Linked DNA regions of Homo sapiens. The protein of the gene in region 2 interacts with the protein of the main gene of each other region in a biochemical or structural test. Each region holds a gene or a part of one and is shown on either strand. Other genes may lie near its edges.

Region 1 (3,130 bases), on a different chromosome or scaffold from region 2:
CTGGCACAGCACAGCAGGGTGGGGGTGGGGTGAACAAGGAATGGCTGGAGGCCAGAGGGTCTCCCAGTGCCTTAGGCCTCTCTCTAATAGGACGGCAGCCCAACAACCAGCAGGCGGCCCTCAGGCACCGGGACTGGGCCAGAAGATGGCAGACCAAGCCTGGGATCTCCATATGGACAACCCCCTCGCTTTCCAGTCCCTCACAATGGCAGCAGCGAGGCCACCCTGCCAGCCCAGATGAGCACCCTGCATGTGTCTCCACCCCCCAGGTAGCACAGAGATGCCTTCGGTGCCATGCCCAGAACCCATCTTAACCCTTGATCCCTCAAATCTCACCCAGTCCCACTCTGACCCCTGACACTTGATCCTTGGGTCTTAGCTGGTTGCATTCTGACTCATAAGCCTTACCAGACCCCAAGTCCACAGGGTGAAGGCTGGAACTGCATCCCTTCCTCCTCTATTTCTTTCTCCCTCCCAGCGCTGACCCAGCCAGAGGCCTCCCGCGGAGCCGGGACTGCAGAGTCGACCTGGGCTCCGAGGTGTACAGGATGCTGCGGGAGCCAGCCGAGCCCGTGGCCGCGGAGCCCAAGCAGTCAGGCTCCTTCCGCTACTTGCAGGGCATGCTAGAGGCCGGCGAGGGCGGTAAGACGCCTGCCACCTGTCCCCATCTGCCTTCCCACTCCCTGCAGTGCCCAGGTTGCCCCCTAGCGACCCCACGTCCCGCCTCGCAGTCACCTGCCCTCTTCGGTCTCTGCGGCCCGGTCCCACGCCCTTGCTACAACCTTGCTACGCCCTGGCTTCCCGATTCCCTCTCCACCCCCTGTCGCTGCCCCTCACCCCACGCCCGCCAAACCCGTTCCCCAGTCTCGGGTGCCGATGGCCCGTCTGGCGCCCAACCAAACACCCCGCAGAAATGGAGTTCTGACCTCCTCACCCCGTTCATGCCACCTACGCTCCGGGTTTCAGGGGATTGGCCCGGGCCTGGCGGCCCCCGGAACCTCAAGCCCACGGCCAGCAAGCTGGGCGCTCCGCTGAGCGGCCTGCAGGGGCTGCCCGAGTGCACGCGCTGCGGCCACGGCATCGTGTGAGTAACCGCCCCCGCTGCCCCTCCCGGACCCTAGCCTTCCAGGGCCCTGGATGCGGGCGCAGTCGTGAACCCATCAGTCACTCGACGCTGTCCTGTCTCGTTCCCCCCATCAGGGGCACCATCGTCAAGGCACGGGACAAGCTCTACCATCCCGAGTGCTTCATGTGCAGTGACTGCGGCCTGAACCTCAAGCAGCGTGGTTACTTCTTTCTGGACGAGCGGCTCTACTGTGAGAGCCACGCCAAGGCGCGCGTGAAGCCGCCCGAGGGCTACGACGTGGTGGCGGTGTACCCCAATGCCAAGGTGGAACTCGTCTGAGCTGGGACCCTGCTCCCACGCCTGCTTCTTAAGGTCCCTGCTCGGCCGGTGTAAATATGTTTCACCCTGTCCCTCTAATAAAGCTCCTCTGCTCCACCTTGAACCTGTCACCTGGCCTGCCACCCTCCTGCGCAGGCCATGCATGGCTCCCGAGTACAGTAGTATCTGCTTAGGTGCCAGGCATGTCCTAGGCTCTGGGTGCAGTAGTGAGCAGGACGGGTACCATGCTGCCCTGAAGGGGGCCACAGCCTGGGTGGAAGGCAGACCTGAATCACAACGGGCCAGCTCTAGTAATACGAAGGTGAGGTCTGGGATGCTGCGTGCGGCGCGACGACAGGAGGTATGACCTGGGTGGGGTCAGGGAAAGTCTTAGCTGAGAACTAAGAGATGAGGGAGGCACAAACTCTGCACGGGGGAACTGTGTGTGCAAAGGTGAGCTGGGGGCGAGAAAGGCCTCTGTGGCCGTCATCGGCACTAGCGGGTTGGGGGTGGTGGTGGGGTGCTGGCAGCCTCAGGAGCGATCGCTCCCCTGGAGAGGGTGATTGAGTGTGGAGATCACCGGGGCCGCCGCGGGCCGTCTGCACTTCTGTTCCAGGTTTTTCTGGCATTTTCTGTTCCAGGTTTCTTCCACCCACGAGCACTTTATTCTCCTCCGAGACCCCCTTTTCTTCCCCTTCCTCTCTCCCCCACCAGGGGGCGCGCTTAAATTTCCAGACAGAGACCAGAAGGAAGGTTTAGAAAGAAAAGAACACTTGCCCAGGGCAGCTTTGCCCTCCAAGAGGCTCCCTCCTGTCTCTAAGTCAATTCCACCCCTCCTCGAAGTCCCGGCTTCCACCCCTCTCCTCAGAGTCCCGGCGTTTACCTCGTGGTGTGTTTGCCTTGGGCCTTTCATGCCCCGGCTGCACACATCGTCTGTGAATTGTGGCTGTTCACTCCCGAGGATGTGTCCTAGACTCCGGGTCGCGTGGATCTACCCTCTAGTTTACTTGCTCGGGAGAAGAAACTGACTCGTTTTATTTAGTGCCTATTTAGCGAGCCCAGAGTAACGTACATTTGTGCTGTTTTCAATTTTGTGCTATCGCAAATCACAAAAAAACTGTTATCAATTCACATTCATCATCAGCACGAGACCCATTTCCTTGTGCTCCTGCCAGCTCAGGATATTATGTTTCTTTTTTCATTTTTGCCAGTCTGTTAAGTAAAATGTCATATGCGTTTGTTTTAATTTGCATTTCTCTGATTACCAGTGATGAACATTCAGTTTTTGAGCATTTATGGTGTGTTTGCTGGGTGCCTAGCACTAAGGGAACAGAGTGGTCCTCACTCTCAAAAGAGCAGTTCTTGTGTAAGTTACCCCAAACCCTTCATGATTTTTTTCCAAGGCTTATTTAACTTCTTCTTAATGATTGGTAGGAACTTTTCCTAATTTTGTACGAATCTTTGTTACTGGATTCTGGTCATCTGATCTATTTCCCTGTTAATGTATAATTACTACTGTGTTGGAGTTTAATAGCCAATCTCTCCTCCTTGTTGGTCATTTACAAACCTGTCAAAGCTATTCCTCTACATTTCCAGTTGTCAGAAGTTGAGACTGCATGCCTCAGGCTCTGGAAAAGCAAACCTCTGAACTGTGACCAGGTTGCCCTGAATCTAGGGACTCACTTGGGAAGAACTGGCATTAGTCTTTTCCTCCAGAGAGGACTGTGATCTGCACTTCCTGTGCAT
Region 2 (3,500 bases):
AGCTGTGCCCAAGATGGGTGTGAGAGCAAGGGTGTCTGAATGGCCTCCTAAAAAGGACTGTTCCAAGGAGCTAACATGCAAGGCACTGTGGGAAAGCCGGTCTCAGACCAGTTATGAAAGCATCACTTCTGTCCTGCAGAATGGGCAGAGTGACCAGAGTGAAGGTCAGCAAGATGAACAGCTCGATCTGGACTTCGTGGAGGCCAAGTACACAATCGGAGACATCTTTGTCCATTCCCCCCAAAGAGGACTTCACCCCATAAGACAGAGGAGCAATAGTGATGTCACTATCAGTGACATTGATGCCGAAGATGTCTTAGACCAAAATGCAGTCAACCCCAACACCGGGGCTGCCCTGCACAGGGAGTATGGAAGTACTTCATCCATCGACAGGCAAGGCTTATCTGGTGAAAACTTTTTTGCTATGCTCAGAGGGTACCGAGTAGAAAATTATGACCACAAAGCAATGGTCCCTTTTGGGTTCCCTGAATTTTTCCGCTGTGACCCTGCAATCTCTCCGAGCCTTCATGCAGCAGCACAGATTTCTAGGGGAGAATTTGTCCGCATCTCAGGATTAGATTATGTGGACAGTGCCCTCCTGATGGGGAGAGACAGGGACAAGCCTTTCAAACGGAGGTTGAAATCAGAGTCGGTGGAAACATCTCTCTTCCGAAAGCTTCGAACTGTTAAAAGTGAGCACGAAACTTTCAAGTTCACGTCTGAGCTGGAGGAGAGCCGACTGGAGAGGGGCATTCGCCCTTGGAATTGTCAGCGATGTTTTGCACATTATGATGTCCAGAGCATTTTGTTTAATATCAACGAAGCCATGGCTACGAGGGCTAATGTGGGGAAAAGGAAAAACATAACCACTGGGGCATCTGCAGCATCCCAGACTCAGATGCCTACGGGCCAGACAGGCAACTGTGAGTCCCCTTTAGGGAGCAAGGAGGACCTCAACTCCAAAGAGAACCTGGATGCCGATGAGGGTGATGGGAAAAGTAACGACCTCGTCCTTAGTTGTCCTTACTTTAGAAATGAGACTGGAGGGGAAGGCGACAGGCGGATTGCGCTCTCTCGAGCCAACTCATCCTCTTTCAGTTCTGGGGAAAGCTGCTCTTTCGAATCGTCACTCAGCTCTCACTGCACAAATGCAGGTGTCTCCGTCTTGGAAGTGCCCAGAGAAAACCAGCCTATTCACAGGGAGAAAGTGAAGCGCTACATCATAGAACACATTGACCTTGGGGCCTATTATTACCGCAAATTCTTCTATGGGAAAGGTAAGGAAGAGCCATGGGCGTTTGCATGTGTCTCGGGAGTAGTTTTTTAAGAACCAGTCACAATGTTTTGCTTTGTGTTGGAGCACCTTCCTCAGAGTGTCCAAGGCCATAGTCCACTGGGCCTGACCTTGTTCTCCATCATGGTCCCTCCATAGCTTCCAGGCTAATTTTTTCTTTAGAAAACTGCAATTCCATGCCTTTGTTTATGGGTAGTCCTTAATGTGTAAATGCCCTTTTGGTTTCTCTTTCTGTCATTCTTTGTCTGCCAATTTGTGATCATCACAAATTCAGACTTGATTTAGATTTCATCCCTTGTAAGAAGTCTTCCCTGATTAATTCTGTCCTCCTCCTATTCCTCTGAATAATCTCTTATGCTGCTTACAGTGGAAAATTCTGTGTTTCCCTCACCTCTCTAATCTTTCTGTACTTTGCTTCTCCAGCATTGCTGTATGTGTTGGACATGTTAAATCTTTGTTGAAAGAATGCCTGAATTACCACAACAGACAAATTTTGTTTTCATGTAGTTCTATAGATGGGCTTAAATGTTAAGACACAAGTGATAAATTATTTAATTCTATGTCAAATAAATGGTTTTTGCTTTACGTATATCTTCAGGCTTGAAGGATGCATTCTTCAGAGGTCATGTAGTTGAATCCTCAACCTTTAAATAAGTGTCCCTAATTATCCCAGGGCTAGGAGAATCTTCTCTGATTTAAAGACCTACAGAGAAACAGGTTCCACATGTGTCAGTAACACATGCCGAGGAAAACACTCCGGCACCTCTCACCACCTTCTTATTGGGTGCAGCTGGTGTCCTTCACGCCTTCATTATAGTGCAGCTTACTTTTCAGAGCTATATTTTTCTGTCTTCAGTTTCACCCGTCAGCCCTCTTCCTGCTCCCAGGGATCCAGGGATAACCTCACAGAGTGCCTGAGGAGGCAGAGGGTGGGCCCCGCTACTCTCCTCCTCCTTTTTCTCAGTGCATAAACTATTCTGCTTCTAGCACAGATAGCTGGGAGCTCACTGTACTTTTATTTATTTATTTTTTTTTTTACTTTAAGTTCTGGGATACATGTTCTGAACATGCAGGTTTTTTACATAGTTATACTTGTGCTATGGTGGTTTGCTGCACCTGTCAACCCATCATCTGGGTTTTAAGCCCTGAATGCATTAGGTGTTTGTCCTAAAGCTCTCCCTCCTGCTTATGAGTGAGAACATGCAGCGTTTGGTTTTCTGTTCCTGTGTTAGTTTGCTGAGAATGATGGTTTCCAGCTTCATCCATGTCCCTGCAAAGGACATGAGCTCATTCTTTTTTATGGCTACATAGTATCCATGGTGTATATGTATGGTAGTTTCTTTATCTAGTCTATCATTGATGGGCATTGGGGTTGGTTCCAAGTCTTTGGTATTGTAAATAGTGCTGCAATAAACATATGTGTGCATGTGCCTTTATAGTAGAATGATTTATAATCCTTTGGGTATATACCCAGTAATGACATTGCTGGGTCAAATGGTATTTCTGGTTCTAGATCCTTGAGGAATCGCCACACTGTCTTCCACAATAGCTGAACTAATTTACACTCCCACCAACAGTGTAAAAATGTTCCTATTTGTCCACATCCTCTCCAGCATCTGTTGTTTCCTGACTTTAATGATCGCCATTCTAATTGGCGTGAGATGGTATCTCATTGAGGTTTTGATTTGCATTTCTTTAATGACCAGTGATGATGAGCTTTTTTCATATGTTTGTTGGCCGCATAAATGTCTTCTTTTGAGAAGTGTCTGTTCATATCCTTTGCCCACTTTTTGATGGGGTTGTTTTGTTCTTGTAAATTTGTTTCAGTTCCTTGTAGATTCTGGATATTAGCCCTTTGTCAGATGGACAGATTGCAAAAATTTTCTCCCATTCTGTAGGTTGCCTGTTGCCTCTGATGATAGTTTCTTTTGCTGTGTAGAAGCTCTTTAGTTTAATTAGATCCCATTTGTCATTTTTGGCTTCTGTTGTCATTGCTTTTGCTGTTTTAGTCATGAAGTCTTTGCCCATGCCTATGTCCTGAATGGTATTGCCCAGGTTTTCTTCTAGGGTTTTTATGGTTTTAGATTTTAATTTCATCAGTATTGGTTTCTGTCTTGAGAATATTTGTGTAATTTTTGACTGTAGTTTGTTTTATTGGAGTGGGTTGGGGAGGGTGGGTAACACAGACCTTAGGAGGTCACTCTGT
Region 3 (3,500 bases), on a different chromosome or scaffold from region 2:
AATGTTTGTTACACAGTGGAATCTGAAACTCTATCAAGGAACTTTCATTTTCTGTTATGTTGAAACCCATTGCACTATCTGGCACTTTGAATGGACCTTTTATCCTTGCATGATTTTGTTACACTTCAGTCATCTGGAAAATTCTGAGGCATGCAGACCTTCCCAATGTATAGTGGAAAGCTCTCCTGTGCACTTGTGAGAAGAAGGGTGAAAAAGGCAACAATAATAGGAATCTTCATATTATTATGAAAACAATCATGACTTCATAGACCACCCTGAAAGGATCTCAGGGTACATCAAGGAGTCCCTAGACTACAGTGAACTGGGTCGGCTCTGAAAGATCTTTTTGCTCTGAAATGTTAGCTTCCCAATTATTCCTTCCTGAATATTCCCTTGGAATAAGAAAGGCACTTTTGCTAATTCAAGGGCTACTGTAAATGCAACAAGGAGTGGAGAAAGGGTTTGTCCCTTGAGTCTAAAGGGTTTTGTGTTTGTTTTGTTTGACAGAGAGACGGTTTAAGATGACAGAACTGGGAGGAATGATATTGTCTCAGTTAATAACAGAAGCTCTTGAACTCAAGTCCTTGCAGCCCTCAAAACATAAGAGGTCTAGAGTTTGGTGTGTGATTGATTGGTGGATAAGGCAGCAAGTGGACCAACTCAGCGATCTGAAGGATTTCCTTTTTCTGTATACACTTGGGATTCCACTTTCCCCCACTGGCTTTCACAAAGGTTAGCCAGTAGCATGACAAACCCTTTATACAAAAGTGATACTAGAATATTCACATGGATTTCAGATGACTCAATTTGGAGTTATGTCATCTCTATTTTGTTGACATATAAGGAGGTGAAAAAATCATAGAATAATTCATGGTTGTTTCCTCTTTTTTCAAGATTCTTTCTCCCTTGAGGGAGACCCTGTTGCTCAGAGAACATTTGCTCCTCTAGGAACTAAGTGCCATTCAGAGCAATGAGATGAGGATAAAGGGATGAAGTTCAGGCCAAGCTCTATGGGTTCCTCTCGCAATATCTTGGAGAAGTCTTTGCCTTCTCTAGATGCTTGCTCTTTCATCTGTATTAAAACCAAAAACTACCATAATTACCAATATATAAAAAGTCAGCGGGATTCAGACAAATTTGTAGACTTGTGACTTTGGGAAAAGATGCTACAAAACCACATGGTTTCTGAATGTGATGTGTCATAAGTACAGCAGTAATAAGCCATGCCTGTGATCCTGTGTTTCCCTGCTCCAGGGATGCCCTCCTCCTCTCTTGCTTTCCCATTCTGTCTACCATCTACAGACCTGGAAGGCACATCTCCAATGGCACCTTCTCCATGAAATCATCCATGAAGGCTTTATTGACTCTGTCAGCTCCCCTCCCGACTGGAACCTGAGCTTGCCTCCCTTCCATCTCACTTGCCAGCATCTGGGTGGCTGGCATCCCTATTATTTGTGCAACTTGCATTATCCACTCTTCTTGTGAGGTTCTAAAGAAAGAAACTGTGTCTTATTCTATTCCTCTTTGAGTCACTCTTAAATAACCAACACAATGGCATGCTTTTATTGGGAGCACAATAAATAATAGCAAATGGCCATACAGTGATTGCTATGAGCCAGGTGTGGTAAAGGCTTTACATAGACCTACTCATTTGACACCACGGCAGCCCTATGATGAGGACACTAGGACTCAAAGTCATTAAGTAATTGTGTCCCAGGTCACACATTGTCATAAAGCAGTAACATGGACCCAGGCAGCCAAGCCCCAAGTCTGCACTCCTGACCACTAGACCACTCTGGCTCCCAACTTAATGTGCAGGGAATTGAATCAGACAGGACTTTGGAGTCATCAAACCATCTTTAGCCATTTTTTCACCTGATCCACACAACAAACCCATGAGGTGGGCCGGGAAGATTCATCTCCAGGTTAAAGATGAAGAAATTGAGCCATCTCAGGGGTCTCTCTGATAGATAACTGATGAAGCCAAAACCAGAATTTATATCTTTGATTCTTTTTTCCTCTGTTCTTTCTCTTATATCACAAATTATCATAATAAGAATCTGGTTATGCAACATAGGCCAACAGTCCTAAATAGCCTTATAAAATCACTTATTTAGAAAATAGAATTGTGCCCCTAATTAAACTACACAAAATTAAAAACACACAAAAGTAAGACACACCAATTTAGCTAAATTTCTAAAATAAAAAACATTTTTTAAAACACAAATAGAAATAGGTAGACATGTCTCCACCAAAGGCTATCAAATCTGATTTAATAGCAACATAAATATGAACAAAATCTTTGGGAATTTCTTCCAGACAAGTAAATATATAGAGATAAGAAATAATTTATAAGATATAATATATTCTCTTATAAGAAATGCTGCCATGGAAATCAGGCACTCTATATCTTTAAATAGAGTATAAATACACTTTTAAAGAATGCAAAGTGATTAAATTTTGGTAAGACTATTCCAAATCTTTGTAAAGCATCCTTTTACTTTTTTACTGTGTAACATTATCTTCAGCACCTCCAAATTACCTCTAAAATGAAAAATAAGCTATTATTATAAATTTTGTTTATTCTTTTCTTTTCTCTCAATGACTTGATATATTTGGTGAACACACAACTTTGACTATAATGACTATCCCACTGTAGTTGGAGGCAGGGTAGAGAAATAAGTTGGGGGGATTCTGCTGGAAAGAGGAAAGAGTTAAAGCATGCTTCAGAGTTGATAAATGATGCAAGCAGAGAAATATAGTCATGTATATGGAAAAACTAGAGAAAGGGCAGTGATTGACAACTGTCTCTAAATCAAAGAAAAATGACTGCAACTGGCCCTAGAAGAATTCCAGGATACGTTTCCAGAAAGGCTGTTAAATACTAAAATGGATTCAAAGGGGAAGTGATAAAATCTGTCTCTATCAGTCTTAACCAGAAAAAAGGAAAGCAAAGATGGAAGGAGAAAGAGAATGAAGCAGGAAAAAGGGAAAGATGGGAGGAAGTGAGGAAGAAGGGGGATAAATCAACGAAACAATAAACATTAGTCCATCCAGAATAATTCTAAGCCTATTGCCAACTGAAGGCTAGAGCACACAGGAAGGAAGAGAGGGGGAGAAGGGAAGAAGAAGTGAGGAGGTAGGGAGAGCATGAGGGAGGAAGGAGGCGACAAATAAATCGCAAAACATTCATCAGTTCAGAATAATTGTAGGTCAACACCAACTGAAGGTAGACCACGTCTGCCATCATACGCGGCATGAACTTTAGAAGGTCCTTCCTGCCCTCTGACATTTAACCTGATGGACTTCAGAAGCCACCTGCATACACACCTTGGACGGTAAGGTAAGCAGATCCATGCAGGCGACTGTTCTGGAGGCTGCATCTGATGTTCCCCGAATCACTGGGCTCCACATTGTGGATGATCATCTCCGAGGTGAAGTTCCCGCCCTGGTCGTACCTCTGAGAGGTGAAGCGGTCATTGGTGATGATGGGCTCCATG
Region 4 (2,188 bases), on a different chromosome or scaffold from region 2:
TGGAGATGCACAGTTCGCGAAAGCATTTAATTATGCACTGCGTCACATGTAGGCCTCATGGTTTTCGGCTATGATGCTGCTCACTGGTTCAGGTTCTCTGTAGCTACCTCTCCCCAAACTGCCTGAGATGGCATCTGTAAGAGAAAAACTGTTTCATGCTTCTATGTGCCACTGCTCTGAGACCACAGCAGAGAAGGTACTTACCTTTGCTCATAGCAGGGCATAGGACCAGTTGGGCTGATAGAATGTGAAATTCTTCTTATTGGTGAACAGTGAAGGATTGCATTCTACATGGGTTCCTGGGCTAACAGTACAGTCATTCCTGAGATCTTTCCGTAAAGAGGCAGACCCAATGGATTTTCTAACAAGTAGAGAAAGAAGAAACTTGTTTCTGAGTGAGTTACAGATGTCCAGTGCCAAACGGTTTCGCCCACAAGTTAACAGAACCCTGTCTCATCACCTTCTGATTTCATGAATAAGAATTAAGTACTTATTGGCAAATGTATGTAGGTTAATTTTCTAGGTCAGTGAATGGTCTGCCGATTGCAACGTTAATTTAATCAGAAGAGACATCAGTATAGGTTGTGTGCATCTGCTGAGTATAACAGTGCCCTTAACACATTGCCCTTTCATGAACAGTGCTGAAGTGTGTCTAAAAATATTTCTTCTTTTTACAAATGTATGTCTTCACTGAGCTTCGCATTTATTACCTCCCATCTTCTGTTCTCTAGGAGCAGTATCAGTTTCTCTACAAAGTGATCCTCAGCCTTGTGAGCACAAGGCAGGAAGAGAATCCATCCACCTCTCTGGACAGTAATGGTGCAGCATTGCCTGATGGAAATATAGCTGAGAGCTTAGAGTCTTTAGTTTAACACAGAAAGGGGTGGGGGAACTCACATCTGAGCATTGTTTTCCTCTTCCTAAAATTAGGCAGGAAAATCAGTCTAGTTCTGTTATCTGTTGATTTCCCATCACCTGACAGTAACTTTCATGACATAGGATTCTGCCGCCAAATTTATATCATTAACAATGTGTGCCTTTTTGCAAGACTTGTAATTTACTTATTATGTTTGAACTAAAATGATTGAATTTTACAGTATTTCTAAGAATGGAATTGTGGTATTTTTTTCTGTATTGATTTTAACAGAAAATTTCAATTTATAGAGGTTAGGAATTCCAAACTACAGAAAATGTTTGTTTTTAGTGTCAAATTTTTAGCTGTATTTGTAGCAATTATCAGGTTTGCTAGAAATATAACTTTTAATACAGTAGCCTGTAAATAAAACACTCTTCCATATGATATTCAACATTTTACAACTGCAGTATTCACCTAAAGTAGAAATAATCTGTTACTTATTGTAAATACTGCCCTAGTGTCTCCATGGACCAAATTTATATTTATAATTGTAGATTTTTATATTTTACTACTGAGTCAAGTTTTCTAGTTCTGTGTAATTGTTTAGTTTAATGACGTAGTTCATTAGCTGGTCTTACTCTACCAGTTTTCTGACATTGTATTGTGTTACCTAAGTCATTAACTTTGTTTCAGCATGTAATTTTAACTTTTGTGGAAAATAGAAATACCTTCATTTTGAAAGAAGTTTTTATGAGAATAACACCTTACCAAACATTGTTCAAATGGTTTTTATCCAAGGAATTGCAAAAATAAATATAAATATTGCCATTAATTTGTGTTTGCTTGTGGAGCATTGTGCTGAAGCGTGTGTGGCAGAAAATTGTGGATGTGGGTCCCCCTATGATGATGGCACACACACACACAAAAAACAGCTAGTAGGATGGGACAGGATTTAGAGTGGTGGGTCCCAAACTGTGCATTGAGGTGCACAGGGAAGTACAAAACTTTCCATTTGTGAGGAAAACACAGCAACATGTGCAGACACTGCACAAACTTTTACTATTAAATTATTTGAACTTTACTACTTAATGAACAGAACAATTATGTATTTCTTTTGGCTTGGGGAGTGCTATGATCTGAATGTTTATGTCTCCCGACAATTTATCCCCTCACCCTCAAGGTGATAATATTAGGAAGTAGGACCTTTGGGAGGTGATTAGTTCATAAGGGCAGAGCTCTCATAAATGAGATTAGTGTCCTTATAAAAGAGGCCTGAGCGAGACCCCTCACCCCTTTCGATGTGTGAGATTATGATGAGAAGACAGCTGTCTA
Region 5 (4,214 bases), on a different chromosome or scaffold from region 2:
GATGCTGGAGGAGTTTTCTTGCTGTGCAGGGGAAAGCTCTGCTACATTAAAAAATAATAACGATACAGTACCTATACAGAATGAAGAACTGTTGACTGGGATAATTCTAGCATTTCTGTATTTACTGTATGGAAGAGTTCTTTAAGGAGAAAAGTTAACCAAATGGATGGCTGTCAAAAGAACCATGCTTATAAATATTATAGTTTAAAAAAGTTTATTGAAGTCCCCCATTTATTCTCAGAGGATTACTATAAGCTCCACAACAACAGAGATCTTGTCTATTCTTCATTGATACATCGCAAGTACCTTGAATAGTGCCAGTATATAGTGAATGCTCAGTAAACTTTTGTTGAAAGAGTGATGAAAATACCTCATTAAACTCCTGTCCTTCATTAGAAACTTGTAAACAAAGAAAATAAAAACAATCACACTGATTTATCAACAAAAAATAATGTTTCTAGAATTTTGTTTATGAAGGCAGCCTCTGACATGTAGTCCTGGGTTTGATTTGAACTGTGTGGCCCTTTGCAAATCACTTAATTTCCCTGTGCCTCACTTTTCCTTTCTGTAAAATGGATATATGCTACCTCATAGTGTTGTCATTATGATTAAATAAGGTACTGCATGAATAAAGAGCCTACAAATTTCCTGGCATAAAGTAAGCACCCATTAAATGTTGGGTGTTTTCATTAAAGCTTGAAATTTCACTGAGGAAGGCACTGAGACCCTCAAAGTAAATGATAGCTAGACGTCCCACAGCCAGTTGGCAAAGCTAGAACTAAACAGTCACGTTTCTGTCCAATCTATGAAAAAGCTTATTCTACTACATCAGGCTGCCTGCTTATGTCTTTATATATACTACCTAATACGTGTGTGTGTGTATGCTTTCTAATATATACTTATATATGTAAGTGTATCCATAATATATGCTTTCCAATATGTATTCTATATATACATACTAGAAAACAACGAAGATGAGTGTGGTTCACTCTCTCTGGCAAAGACTTGAAAAATGCATGATTCTGAGATGCCTGCTGAAAATGTGAAAACCTTGAACCATGCCAAATGAAGCAGTTAATATAACTGCCCTAACCTCAAGTTTAGCACACTGATCCAGTTGGAAATTTTGCTCTGGAGCATTTACAAAAGCACAGATCCGGGGAAACGGGAATCAAATGCAGTAATTCTGCAAGTGTATTCAGGATGAATGTAATATTGAGTGTCACCGGGCACCTCACTACCCCCCGCCTCCACCCCCGCCGTCTCACCTCCCTCCCTTAGATCCTGCCACTCCCCTCTGCTGGTGCTGGAAGCACTGGGCGAGTGGCTCTCAGAGCTAGAGCGGGCGGGGCGGACACGCTTAGCGTAAGCGCAGGGGCCAGGAGCCCGGAGGGAGGTGGAGGCGGGGCAAGGCAAGGCAGCAGGCGCTGGGTAGAGCTCAGCTGGAACACAGTTTCCCTCCTGGACCGGTCGAGTCAGACCTCACGTGTAGACTAAGAGGATCAAAAGAAGAGTACGTTACCTGCGGCGCCGGTTGTGCGCAGACCAGATGTGCCGGGAGCTGCAGGTGAGTCACTTGCTCTTCCCTCCCACCCCCACCTCCTCACCCCGAGTCCAACAGGTTGGCTGGAGCGCAGCTTCCAGGGGCCCCGTGGGTACACTTCTAGTCTCACCTGGGCGCTGGCCTCGGCTTCTCCCTTTACCGAGGGAGGCCGTCGTTACTATTTAAATTCCTGCCCCAGCCCACGCTTGTTCTATTCCTTGTCTTTTTGCCTTTCCTTCTAAAATGAGAGCTCCGCTGTGCTCAGAACACCTGCTCTCCGGGAAACTTGTAGGGACAGAAATGGTTAAAAGGAAGGGTGCCTCAAAAAAGTGCCTCAACACGAGGTGGACCCTCGACAGGGTGGGAGCTGACAGTGACACTCCTAGTTCTTAGTGACCCACTGGGTCTTCAATAAAAAGTCATCATTAATTATTCTTGTTTCTCAACCAGGAGGTCAGAACCTAAGGGAGACGGCGGAAGAAAATGGAGCGTCAGTGATCATCAGACTAGAATGAGAGTGAATTGGGAGAAAATGGTGCGGCCCCCTCACCCAGAGAACCCTCCCCCACCTGCTCACACCCCCAGCGAACACCCCGGGGGAGGCCTATGAAGCAGCAGTAAAAGAAAAGGGAGGAATATAAATTCTCAAGTTGGAAGGGACCCGGTTACCACTTCCTTTGCTTTCTGAACTTTTTGTTTTGGTCTCCTGCGGGCAGGAGTGAGTCTCGCCATCCCCCTTGCTTGCTTGCTTGCTTGCGTTCAGCTAAGAGTCATCTTCTCTCCTCTTCCTCCTCCTCCGCCCCACATCTCCCTCCTTCCTCCCTTCCCCAACCCCTCCACCCACCAAGTAGCGAGTCATTCAATCTGTACACCTCCTGGGCTGGGAATCGCAATTGCGAAGTTGGGAGGCGGGGTGACAACGTTTGGGAAGGGCCAGGGCGACCGGCAGTGTGCACAGGGACTGTGTCGGGCTTGGACCTCACCTGATCCTCTCTCTTAGCGCGACCCTTCCTCTGCTCCCTGTCTCCTCTTTCTGCCACTTGTGCGCTGCTTCCGCGCACTCCCGGCTCCCTAGCGGCAGGAGGAGGAAGGCGCACAGCGGGTGGAGAGGGTGCGCCAAGGAGAGGTAACCCCTTCGGGAGCCCGGGGAATCCCGGCCGCCACCAGGGGCCGTGCCACCGCCCTCGCGGGACCAAAGCTTCCGGCGTGTCCCCAACTTTGTGGCGCCCTCAGGCCGCGGCGACTGGGTTAGAGATGCCTTCCAGCGGCAGAGCGCTGCTGGACTCGCCGCTGGACAGCGGCTCCCTGACCTCCCTGGACTCTAGTGTCTTCTGCAGCGAGGGTGAAGGGGAGCCCTTGGCGCTCGGGGACTGCTTCACGGTCAACGTGGGCGGCAGCCGCTTCGTGCTCTCGCAGCAGGCGCTGTCCTGCTTCCCGCACACGCGCCTTGGCAAGCTGGCCGTGGTGGTGGCTTCCTACCGCCGCCCCGGGGCCCTGGCCGCCGTGCCCAGCCCTCTGGAGCTTTGCGACGATGCCAACCCCGTGGACAACGAGTACTTCTTCGACCGCAGCTCGCAGGCGTTCCGATATGTCCTGCACTACTACCGCACCGGCCGCCTGCATGTCATGGAGCAGCTGTGCGCGCTCTCCTTCCTGCAGGAGATCCAGTACTGGGGCATCGATGAGCTCAGCATCGATTCCTGCTGCAGGGACAGGTACCCCGGAGGCACGCGGCGGCTGGGCGGGGAGGCGGGCGCGGCAGAGAAAGAGAGGAAGGCACAGGTAGATTTGAGGCTTTACACAAGCTTCGCTGGAGCCAGGCCTAGCAATAAGGTGTGGCCACTTCTGGGCTGACAGGTGGGGTGGGGGTGGGGGACTGGAAAGCATCAACGCCAACTTTTGAATAGAACTTTTTGAATCTCTTTGTTCCCTTTTTTGAGTATGCTAATTTAACGTATAAGGCAAGGGACTTCAGGCCCACAATAAATATTTGGTGACTGAATAAATGAATCAGAAACGCCATGCTCCAAAAATGCATGCATAGGGATAAAAGATTTGGCACGCAGCATTATCATTTATCAAACCTAGAACACTGACTTTGAAAAACTTGAATGGAGAATTGTTTTAAATATAGAAGATAAAAGGTTGGTCCCTTGATTGAATGATTGTGGAACTCTGAGGTTACCTTGCTATTACTACCATTTCTTCATGAATACATTTCCTTTACACACACACAAAAAAGTTCCACCTGCCAAACATCTGTTCTTACCAGAAAATGGGTAATAAAATGTATTAATCCAAAGTAGCTTTACTATGTATACACTTCTACTAAGAAAGTGTCATTTTAAAAATTATAATCCAGGCCGGTCGTGGTGGCTCACGCCTGTAATCCCAGCACTTTGGGAGGCCGAGGCGGGTGGATCACTTGAGGCCAAGAGTTCGAGACCCCCCCTGGACAACATGGTGAAACCCTGTCTCTACTAAAAATACAAAAATTACCCGGGGGTGCTGGTGGTGCGTACCTGTAATCCCAGCTACTCAGGAGGCTGGGGCAGAAGAATCGCTTGAACCTGGGAAGCGGAGGCTACAGTAAGCCGAGATCACTCCGCTGCACTCCAGCCTGGGCGACAGAGCAAGACTCCGTCTCAAAAAAAAAAAAAAAAGGAAAAAT
Region 6 (3,500 bases), on a different chromosome or scaffold from region 2:
AGGTATAAATACGGGATATTTGGGGCATGTGCATGTTATCATCATCCCTAGCTGTGTATGGAACTGTTTCTCAAACAATGCAACAGTGACTCCTTAATATATTGTGTGAACCATAATGTCCTGGTTTTACTGAAGTTCTTTTTTTTTTTTTTAAACCAATTTCTAATTTAAAAAACTAGATAGTCAAGATTATGGTAATTATACTTGAACATGCAGGTACAGTGACACGTGTGTGTGTGCTGAAAGATGAAGAGCAGTGTGGTGTGTGGGTGCATGAATGACTGAAGTCAGATGGCTGCTAACAGGAGTTTGTAGGCCATGAGTCCAAGCCCTGGCAAACCACCTGGATCACCATGTGTCTCGCAGAGAGGACAGGCTTCTTATGGGAGTTTGGAGGAGGCTATGGAGACAGAGCGACAAAGCTCCTCACGATGGTTTAGGTGTGATTATGTTTATGGCAAATAACAGGCCATTTGAATAAGGTGGATGCCAGTCATCTGATATCTGAGGCAACTTCTCATAGGATACTTTCCCAACCCTCTACTCTTCTTAACTTTTTCCCATTTTTACATAAAGCTACAGAGTCTAACAAATTAATCGGTCCCAATGGAAATATAAATTTCCTTAAACAGATACAGGTCAAAGTGGCTCTGAAACTAAAATTTAAATGTAGCAATGTGCCCTGCCAGTAGGACCCAGGCCAAAATGATTGTGGGCATGGGATTACCTGGAGTTGAAGAACCTGGATTGCTCTGCCCACCAGAAGATGCCTTGCTCACAATATTCTCTAATCTCTTCATTAAAAAAGGCCGAGATATTTTCACATAGCTATGAGTATGCTCCTGTTCAAATGACATAAAAAGTCATATTTTGTAACACGATTATCATAAACATTCATGAAAATTAACTCTTCTGTAGCTGTTTTCCTCAAGTTGTTTTTTCTGTTTGTTTTTTCTTTTTTTTTTTTAGACAGAGTCTTGCCCTGTCACCCAGGCTGGAGTGCAGTGGCATGATCTTGGCCCACTACAACCTCCACCTCCCGGGTTCAAGTGATTCTCCTGCCTCAGCCTCCCCCGTAGCTGGGATTACAGGTGCCCACCACCATGCCTGGCTAATTTTTGTATTCTTAGTAGAGACGGGGTTTCACCGTGTCAGCCAGGCTGCTCTCGAACTCCTGACCTCAGGTGATCCGCCTGCCTTGGCCTCCCAAAGTTCTGGGATTACAGGCATGAGCCACTGCGCCTGGACTGGAAGTTTTTAAACTGAGGGGTATAAATAATTCAAAGATTTCTAAGCCCTACTGTGTTTCAGTTTTGAGTTGAAGCCTTAATATTTTCACAATTACACAATTACTATACTTTATAGCCTGTGTTTCCAATTCTAACCTATGTGTCTAGGTCAAATAGTAATATTCATAGCATTACTTTTACAAATACAACTTTAGTTGGCTTAATGCAAGTGAAATGATCACAACCCTGTAAATGATTGAGATTGTTTTCGAGCTCTTGAGCCTTAGAAAACTGTCCCTTCACAAGATGATTACAGTTCCCCCTTCTGATCAGTAATAAAAATAGCTACAAGCATTTCAGAGCTGTACTGATGCATTATCTGCATTAGGCACCATCTTAAACAGATGAGACTAATACATACCACAAAATCTTATAATTTAGGTCTGAACGAATATTAAAATTTCAATTTAATAGAAATTTTACTGTAAAAGCACATCCAAAGGATGAAATTCAGGTATGATGAGAAAGAAGAAATCAAAAGTGTTTTTTAGCTTCTCATAGAAGTTTGGTGTACACAGAATGTATTCGGTTTTGTCTAGCTCTTGTTATTGTGCTCAAAAGAAAAATAAAAACATTTATCTTCTTAACTAACTGCATGAATATTAATATCACATAGAATTCCTAACACCTTTTTTGCCCTGATGCTACTTTAAGCCACTCCACCCAGCAGGCCCAATCAAGAAATTACAACCAGTCTCCTTAAATGTTACCTTTTCCCTCCACCTGAAGATGGAATTACTACAAGGATGGCTGGGTTGAGGTCTTTGCTCAAGTTCTGCTAACATTGATGACAGTTTGTAGGAGTTCGCTTCCAAAAGGTCTAGTTTCAAATTGTTCTGTGGATACATCATTTGGCCATGTGAGCAAATTTCTAGTAAATGAGGCACAACTGGATAGGAATATCAGAATAACTTTCAAAATAACAAAGGTTAGAAAAGTACGCATTTAACTCATACAGATATTCACAGAAAATGCCGAAGGAAAAAAAAATGGAGGAATAAACTCTTTAAGCAGTTTAGAGGGAGGTTTTAGTTGTTGAGTGTGTCTCATTCTGTACTCTGGGGGTGAACAGGAAACCTTGGTAATATATTAGTATTTTATGGCAATGAAGAGGTTTTACTCAATTTTCTGCTGAGGGACAAGAAAGGGGATAAGTGTTGATTGTAGAAGGTAGATTTTTGGTGGTCTGCGAAGAAGGTGAGCCATCAGTGCTAAATATTGTGAACAGAATTGAATTAACATCAATAGACGCAAATGAAATTGAATGTGAGGTTTGTTTGTTCTTTGATAAGGTGAGGTCTTATATTACCCACAAAGTTTACAGGAATACTTCTGGAAACTGGGAACAATATTTTAGGGCATTTGAGTATAAACATAATAAGTCAAGCTAAAGATACACTCCTAGTCTCTGTCTGTTCTTGATATGACCTTGAACTAGAAACTTTATAATTACCTTGTCAGGCTGGGTCCAGCCAGGGTGAATTAAATAACAGAATCTAAGCATTGGAAGGGTCTTGCTTATCCAGCCCCCTCCTCACCATTATCCCTCTCTCCCCCACACCTCCAGCATGGGAATTCCCAACCCTAATATCCCTGCCAGGGTGTCACAGCCATGGACAGAAGACATCCAATTGATGGAGAAAGTCTCTAATCGTTGGAGGAATCCACTGCATTGTGGGGCAGGCTTACCTAAGACAAAACTAAAAGCTCCCCCATGCTTTCTACCATTAGACCTTCACTTGATAGTCTCATAGAGCACATCTAGTTCTTCTTCTATGTGGCCCTCTTTCTGGTCTCTAAAGACAGTATTTAATCTAAGTGCCTCCAGTTTTCTCAACAATTTTTCTTATGACACTGCTTGTGAACATTCTTGATTCAAACATGGCACTTCAAGGACCAAGATATAATGAAATAAGGAAGAATGTAAATAAAAGTTTCCTCATCCTAGAAACCTTCCGTGGGTGACACAAAATCTACCAGTATCACTAGTTTCTGTCTACCCAGATGCAGAGCATGCGTAATGAAATCATGTGGATATTTGGCATTCCTCACTTAAAGGTTCATAGTTGCTCCTTCACCAGATCATAAACATTGGAAGTTCCAAGGTCAGATGCTCTCCCTCCTTGTGTCCTCCACTGTGTGCTTCAGGTGAGAGGACCCAGATGATCCTAATACATGTATGCTGGTAATGACAATGACAAAATTCTGTGC
Region 7 (4,026 bases), on a different chromosome or scaffold from region 2:
CTTTTGCCAGAGTCATAGCCGCAGCTCAGGTCCTGCTAGGTCTCAGAAAGTCTTGCGAAGAATCCAGGTGGAGACTCTGGAGCGAACTCTGGGGAGAGAATGGGGCGTGTGTGCACATGCTCAGTGGTTTGCAGCTGCCAGAGTGACCCTAGGATGGGACAGCCACCGGGACTGTGGCAGCACCCACATGGAGTGATGGTCAGGGAGAGATCAAGAGATATGACTCCGGAGACCCTAAGTCCTCTAGAGACCCCAAGGGGAGACCCAAAGGGGAGCGGCCGAGGAACCCTGAGACAGAGACATGGAGGGCTAAGAGATAATGAGCAAAAAGAGACCTAGAGAGGAGAGACAAAGAGACCAAGAGAGACAAGAGATAAACGGAGACAGACCAAGAGTCAAAATAAAGGCGGAGACCGAGACGTAGAGGCTGGCAGAGGGACCCATACAGAGGCCCCCAGAACGACGAATCTCAGAAATAAATGACCCATAGAGATACTCAGAGATACATCCCAAAAGAGACAGAGACCCAGAGGGGACAGCCGGACACAGACACACAAGAGAGTGAGAGACAAAGGTGCAAACAGGGCGACTCCAGGCCGGGCGCCGTGGCTCACGCTTGTAACCCCAGCAATTCGGGAGGCCAAGGAGGGCAGATCACTTGAGGTCGGGAGTACCAGACCTGCCTGGCCAACATGGTGAAACCCCTTCTCAACTAAAAAAGAAAAAAGAAAAAAAATTAGCTGGGCTTGGTGGCGCCTGTAATTCCAGCTACTAGGGAGGCTGAGGCACGAGAATCGCTTGATCCCGGGAGGTGGAGGTTGTTGCAGTGAGCCGAGATCGCGCCACTGCACTCCAGCCCGGGCGACAGAGGGAAACTGTGTCTCAAAAAAAAAAAAAAAAAAAAAGACAGAAAGAAAGAAGAAAGAGAAAAGAAAAGAGGCGACTGCAACTGAAGCCTGATTCTGACGAAACACACGCACACGGAAACTTGGAGAGACGCAGGACAGGATCCCGGCGGCAGAAGGACGGAGAGAAAGGGGACCCCGGGACGGGAAAGGCGCAGAGCAGGCGCGGGCGGCGGCGGCGGCGGGGCAGGGCAGGGCGGGCGTCCCGGCAGAGGGCGCGCGGTCGCCCTGTCGCCCTCCGCCCCGCCGGGGTCACAGTGCCCCCTCCCTCGCGCCCTAGCCGCCCTGCCGGGCTATTTTTACGCGCGGACACCGGACACCGGACACCGGGCTGGGGCGGCGGCGGCGGCGGCCGAGGCGGCCGAGGCGGGGCCGCACCGGGGCCGGGCGTCGGGGCCACACGTCGGTTCGCGGGTCGCCGGGGCTGCGCGCGCCATGGAGCCGCGGTGCCCGCCGCCGTGCGGCTGCTGCGAGCGGCTGGTGCTCAACGTGGCCGGGCTGCGCTTCGAGACGCGGGCGCGCACGCTGGGCCGCTTCCCGGACACTCTGCTAGGGGACCCAGCGCGCCGCGGCCGCTTCTACGACGACGCGCGCCGCGAGTATTTCTTCGACCGGCACCGGCCCAGCTTCGACGCCGTGCTCTACTACTACCAGTCCGGTGGGCGGCTGCGGCGGCCGGCGCACGTGCCGCTCGACGTCTTCCTGGAAGAGGTGGCCTTCTACGGGCTGGGCGCGGCGGCCCTGGCACGCCTGCGCGAGGACGAGGGCTGCCCGGTGCCGCCCGAGCGCCCCCTGCCCCGCCGCGCCTTCGCCCGCCAGCTGTGGCTGCTTTTCGAGTTTCCCGAGAGCTCTCAGGCCGCGCGCGTGCTCGCCGTAGTCTCCGTGCTGGTCATCCTCGTCTCCATCGTCGTCTTCTGCCTCGAGACGCTGCCTGACTTCCGCGACGACCGCGACGGCACGGGGCTTGCTGCTGCAGCCGCAGCCGGCCCGGTGAGAGGCGGGGCGTGGGTGGAGACGGGCGGGGTTTGGGAGGAGATGGGCGGGGTCCAGAGGGGACCTGGCCAATCATAAGGCGGGGCCAGGGGCTGCGAGGGGTGGGCCAGCCGAAGACAGGGTGGGCGGGAGGCGGGGCCTGAGGATCCGGGTCGGAGGACCTGCCCCATCAGAAGGTGGGGTTGAGGTCAGTGAGAAACCCGGCGTGAAGAGGGCAGGGCCCTTGATGCAAGGGGTAGGAGGACAGGAACCTTAAAAATCACAGCTGAGGGGGGCCAAGGAGAGCCTGAAAACTCCGGAGTCTGTGCGGCTGGGTGGTGAAAGCCAGGCCCTGAATAACTCCAGCTGAGGGTGCTGGAGCCCGAGGGGCGACAGTAGGAGGAATCTATGGAAAGAAAGCCAGGTTGAGGGGCCAGAGGAGGGGGCCTAGGGCTCGGCTTGCAGAGAAGGTCTTTTTTTTTTTATTTCCTGTGAGACAGAGTCTTGCTCTGTCGCCCAGGCTGGAGTGCAATGGCGCTATCTCGGCTCACTGCAAGGTCTGCCTCCCGGGTTCAAGCGATTCTCCTGCCTTAGCCTCCCAAGTAGCTGGGATTACAGGTGCAGGCCACCACGCCCGGCTAATTTTTGTATTTTTAGTAGAGATGGGGTTTCACCGTGTTGGCCAGGATGGTCTCTATTTCCTGACCTCGTGATCCGCCCGCCTCGGCTTCCCAAAGTGCTGGGATTACAGACGTGAGCCACCGCGCCCAGCCGCATTATACTCTGGGCTGGGACTGTGGAGGGCAAGGAAAAGCTAGGCACAAGGTGGTGGGGCCAGGGCAGGGATGCTCCCCATCTAGAAAATCAACACTGGAGGCGGGACTTTGAGAGAGAAGAGGTTGCACCCTACTCAAACATGAGTTCCCACGCATGAAGGGGCAGGGACCACGTCTCCAGCCACCCACCAGGTCAGGCAACCAGAAAGTCAGCGGCCCAGGGATGATCCCTGGGATCCTGGGAGGAAGTCTGGGATAACCAGGTCACGGAGGGCCTTGGCGCAGCGGCTACTGACCAATGTGTAAAGAGGAGCTGGGTATTTAAATGATGATTAAGGCTGTCCCCGTGTCCTAGCCCCAGCCTGACCCTCCCTGAACACTTTCCTCCCTGCAGTTCCCCGCTCCGCTGAATGGCTCCAGCCAAATGCCTGGAAATCCACCCCGCCTGCCCTTCAATGACCCGTTCTTCGTGGTGGAGACGCTGTGTATTTGTTGGTTCTCCTTTGAGCTGCTGGTACGCCTCCTGGTCTGTCCAAGCAAGGCTATCTTCTTCAAGAACGTGATGAACCTCATCGATTTTGTGGCTATCCTTCCCTACTTTGTGGCACTGGGCACCGAGCTGGCCCGGCAGCGAGGGGTGGGCCAGCAGGCCATGTCACTGGCCATCCTGAGAGTCATCCGATTGGTGCGTGTCTTCCGCATCTTCAAGCTGTCCCGGCACTCAAAGGGCCTGCAAATCTTGGGCCAGACGCTTCGGGCCTCCATGCGTGAGCTGGGCCTCCTCATCTTTTTCCTCTTCATCGGTGTGGTCCTCTTTTCCAGCGCCGTCTACTTTGCCGAAGTTGACCGGGTGGACTCCCATTTCACTAGCATCCCTGAGTCCTTCTGGTGGGCGGTAGTCACCATGACTACAGTTGGCTATGGAGACATGGCACCCGTCACTGTGGGTGGCAAGATAGTGGGCTCTCTGTGTGCCATTGCGGGCGTGCTGACTATTTCCCTGCCAGTGCCCGTCATTGTCTCCAATTTCAGCTACTTTTATCACCGGGAGACAGAGGGCGAAGAGGCTGGGATGTTCAGCCATGTGGACATGCAGCCTTGTGGCCCACTGGAGGGCAAGGCCAATGGGGGGCTGGTGGACGGGGAGGTACCTGAGCTACCACCTCCACTCTGGGCACCCCCAGGGAAACACCTGGTCACCGAAGTGTGAGGAACAGTTGAGGTCTGCAGGACCTCACACCTCCCTAGAGGGAGGGAGGGAGGGCAGGGTGGAGGGCAAGGCTGGGGGGAGGGGATTGGGTTTAGGAAGAGCTAGGTTAAGTCGTAACGAGTGGGGAAACACTGAGTCTTGTTGGGTCTTGGGTTGTGTGGTT

What was found.
Region 1: the proteins of SIPA1L2 (region 2) and PDLIM4 interact in a test that uses a peptide from one of them, tested with the Homo sapiens proteins (one large-scale study listed by IntAct).
Region 3: the proteins of SIPA1L2 (region 2) and IGSF5 interact in a test that uses a peptide from one of them, tested with the Homo sapiens proteins (one large-scale study listed by IntAct).
Region 4: the proteins of SIPA1L2 (region 2) and PTPRZ1 interact in a test that uses a peptide from one of them, tested with the Homo sapiens proteins (one large-scale study listed by IntAct).
Region 5: the proteins of SIPA1L2 (region 2) and KCNV1 interact in a test that uses a peptide from one of them, tested with the Homo sapiens proteins (one large-scale study listed by IntAct).
Region 6: the proteins of SIPA1L2 (region 2) and NOSTRIN interact in a test that uses a peptide from one of them, tested with the Homo sapiens proteins (one large-scale study listed by IntAct).
Region 7: the proteins of SIPA1L2 (region 2) and KCNA7 interact in a test that uses a peptide from one of them, tested with the Homo sapiens proteins (one large-scale study listed by IntAct).

Annotation. Positions count from the first base shown.
Region 1 is NC_000005.10:132,270,825-132,273,954, forward strand, and holds the end of PDLIM4 (PDZ and LIM domain protein 4), read left to right. Parts: intron 1-90; coding exon 91-269; intron 270-478; coding exon 479-642; coding exon of another isoform or gene 643-966; coding exon 967-1,084; intron 1,085-1,200; coding exon 1,201-1,405; 3' UTR 1,406-2,630; downstream 2,631-3,130.
Region 2 is NC_000001.11:232,511,634-232,515,133, reverse strand, and holds part of SIPA1L2 (signal-induced proliferation-associated 1-like protein 2), read left to right. Parts: coding exon 1-1,277; intron 1,278-3,500.
Region 3 is NC_000021.9:39,765,683-39,769,182, reverse strand, and holds part of IGSF5 (immunoglobulin superfamily member 5), read right to left. Parts: coding exon 3,331-3,500; intron 1-3,330. UniProt on the Homo sapiens protein: Provides, together with MAGI1, an adhesion machinery at tight junctions, which may regulate the permeability of kidney glomerulus and small intestinal epithelial cells. Mediates calcium-independent homophilic cell adhesion.
Region 4 is NC_000007.14:122,060,349-122,062,536, forward strand, and holds the end of PTPRZ1 (receptor-type tyrosine-protein phosphatase zeta isoform 1 precursor), read left to right. Parts: intron 1-731; coding exon 732-872; 3' UTR 873-1,688; downstream 1,689-2,188. UniProt on the Homo sapiens protein: Protein tyrosine phosphatase that negatively regulates oligodendrocyte precursor proliferation in the embryonic spinal cord. Required for normal differentiation of the precursor cells into mature, fully myelinating oligodendrocytes.
Region 5 is NC_000008.11:109,972,972-109,977,185, reverse strand, and holds the start of KCNV1 (potassium voltage-gated channel subfamily V member 1), read left to right. Parts: upstream 1-1,414; 5' UTR 1,415-1,567; intron 1,568-1,993; 5' UTR 1,994-2,797; coding exon 2,798-3,258; intron 3,259-4,214. UniProt on the Homo sapiens protein: Potassium channel subunit that does not form functional channels by itself. Modulates KCNB1 and KCNB2 channel activity by shifting the threshold for inactivation to more negative values and by slowing the rate of inactivation.
Region 6 is NC_000002.12:168,858,137-168,861,636, reverse strand, and holds part of NOSTRIN (nostrin), read right to left. Parts: intron 2,126-3,500; coding exon 2,000-2,125; intron 843-1,999; coding exon 728-842; intron 117-727; exon of another isoform or gene 1-116. UniProt on the Homo sapiens protein: Multivalent adapter protein which may decrease NOS3 activity by inducing its translocation away from the plasma membrane.
Region 7 is NC_000019.10:49,069,900-49,073,925, reverse strand, and holds the start of KCNA7 (potassium voltage-gated channel subfamily A member 7), read left to right. Parts: upstream 1-1,226; 5' UTR 1,227-1,340; coding exon 1,341-1,895; intron 1,896-3,047; coding exon 3,048-3,863; 3' UTR 3,864-4,026. UniProt on the Homo sapiens protein: Mediates the voltage-dependent potassium ion permeability of excitable membranes.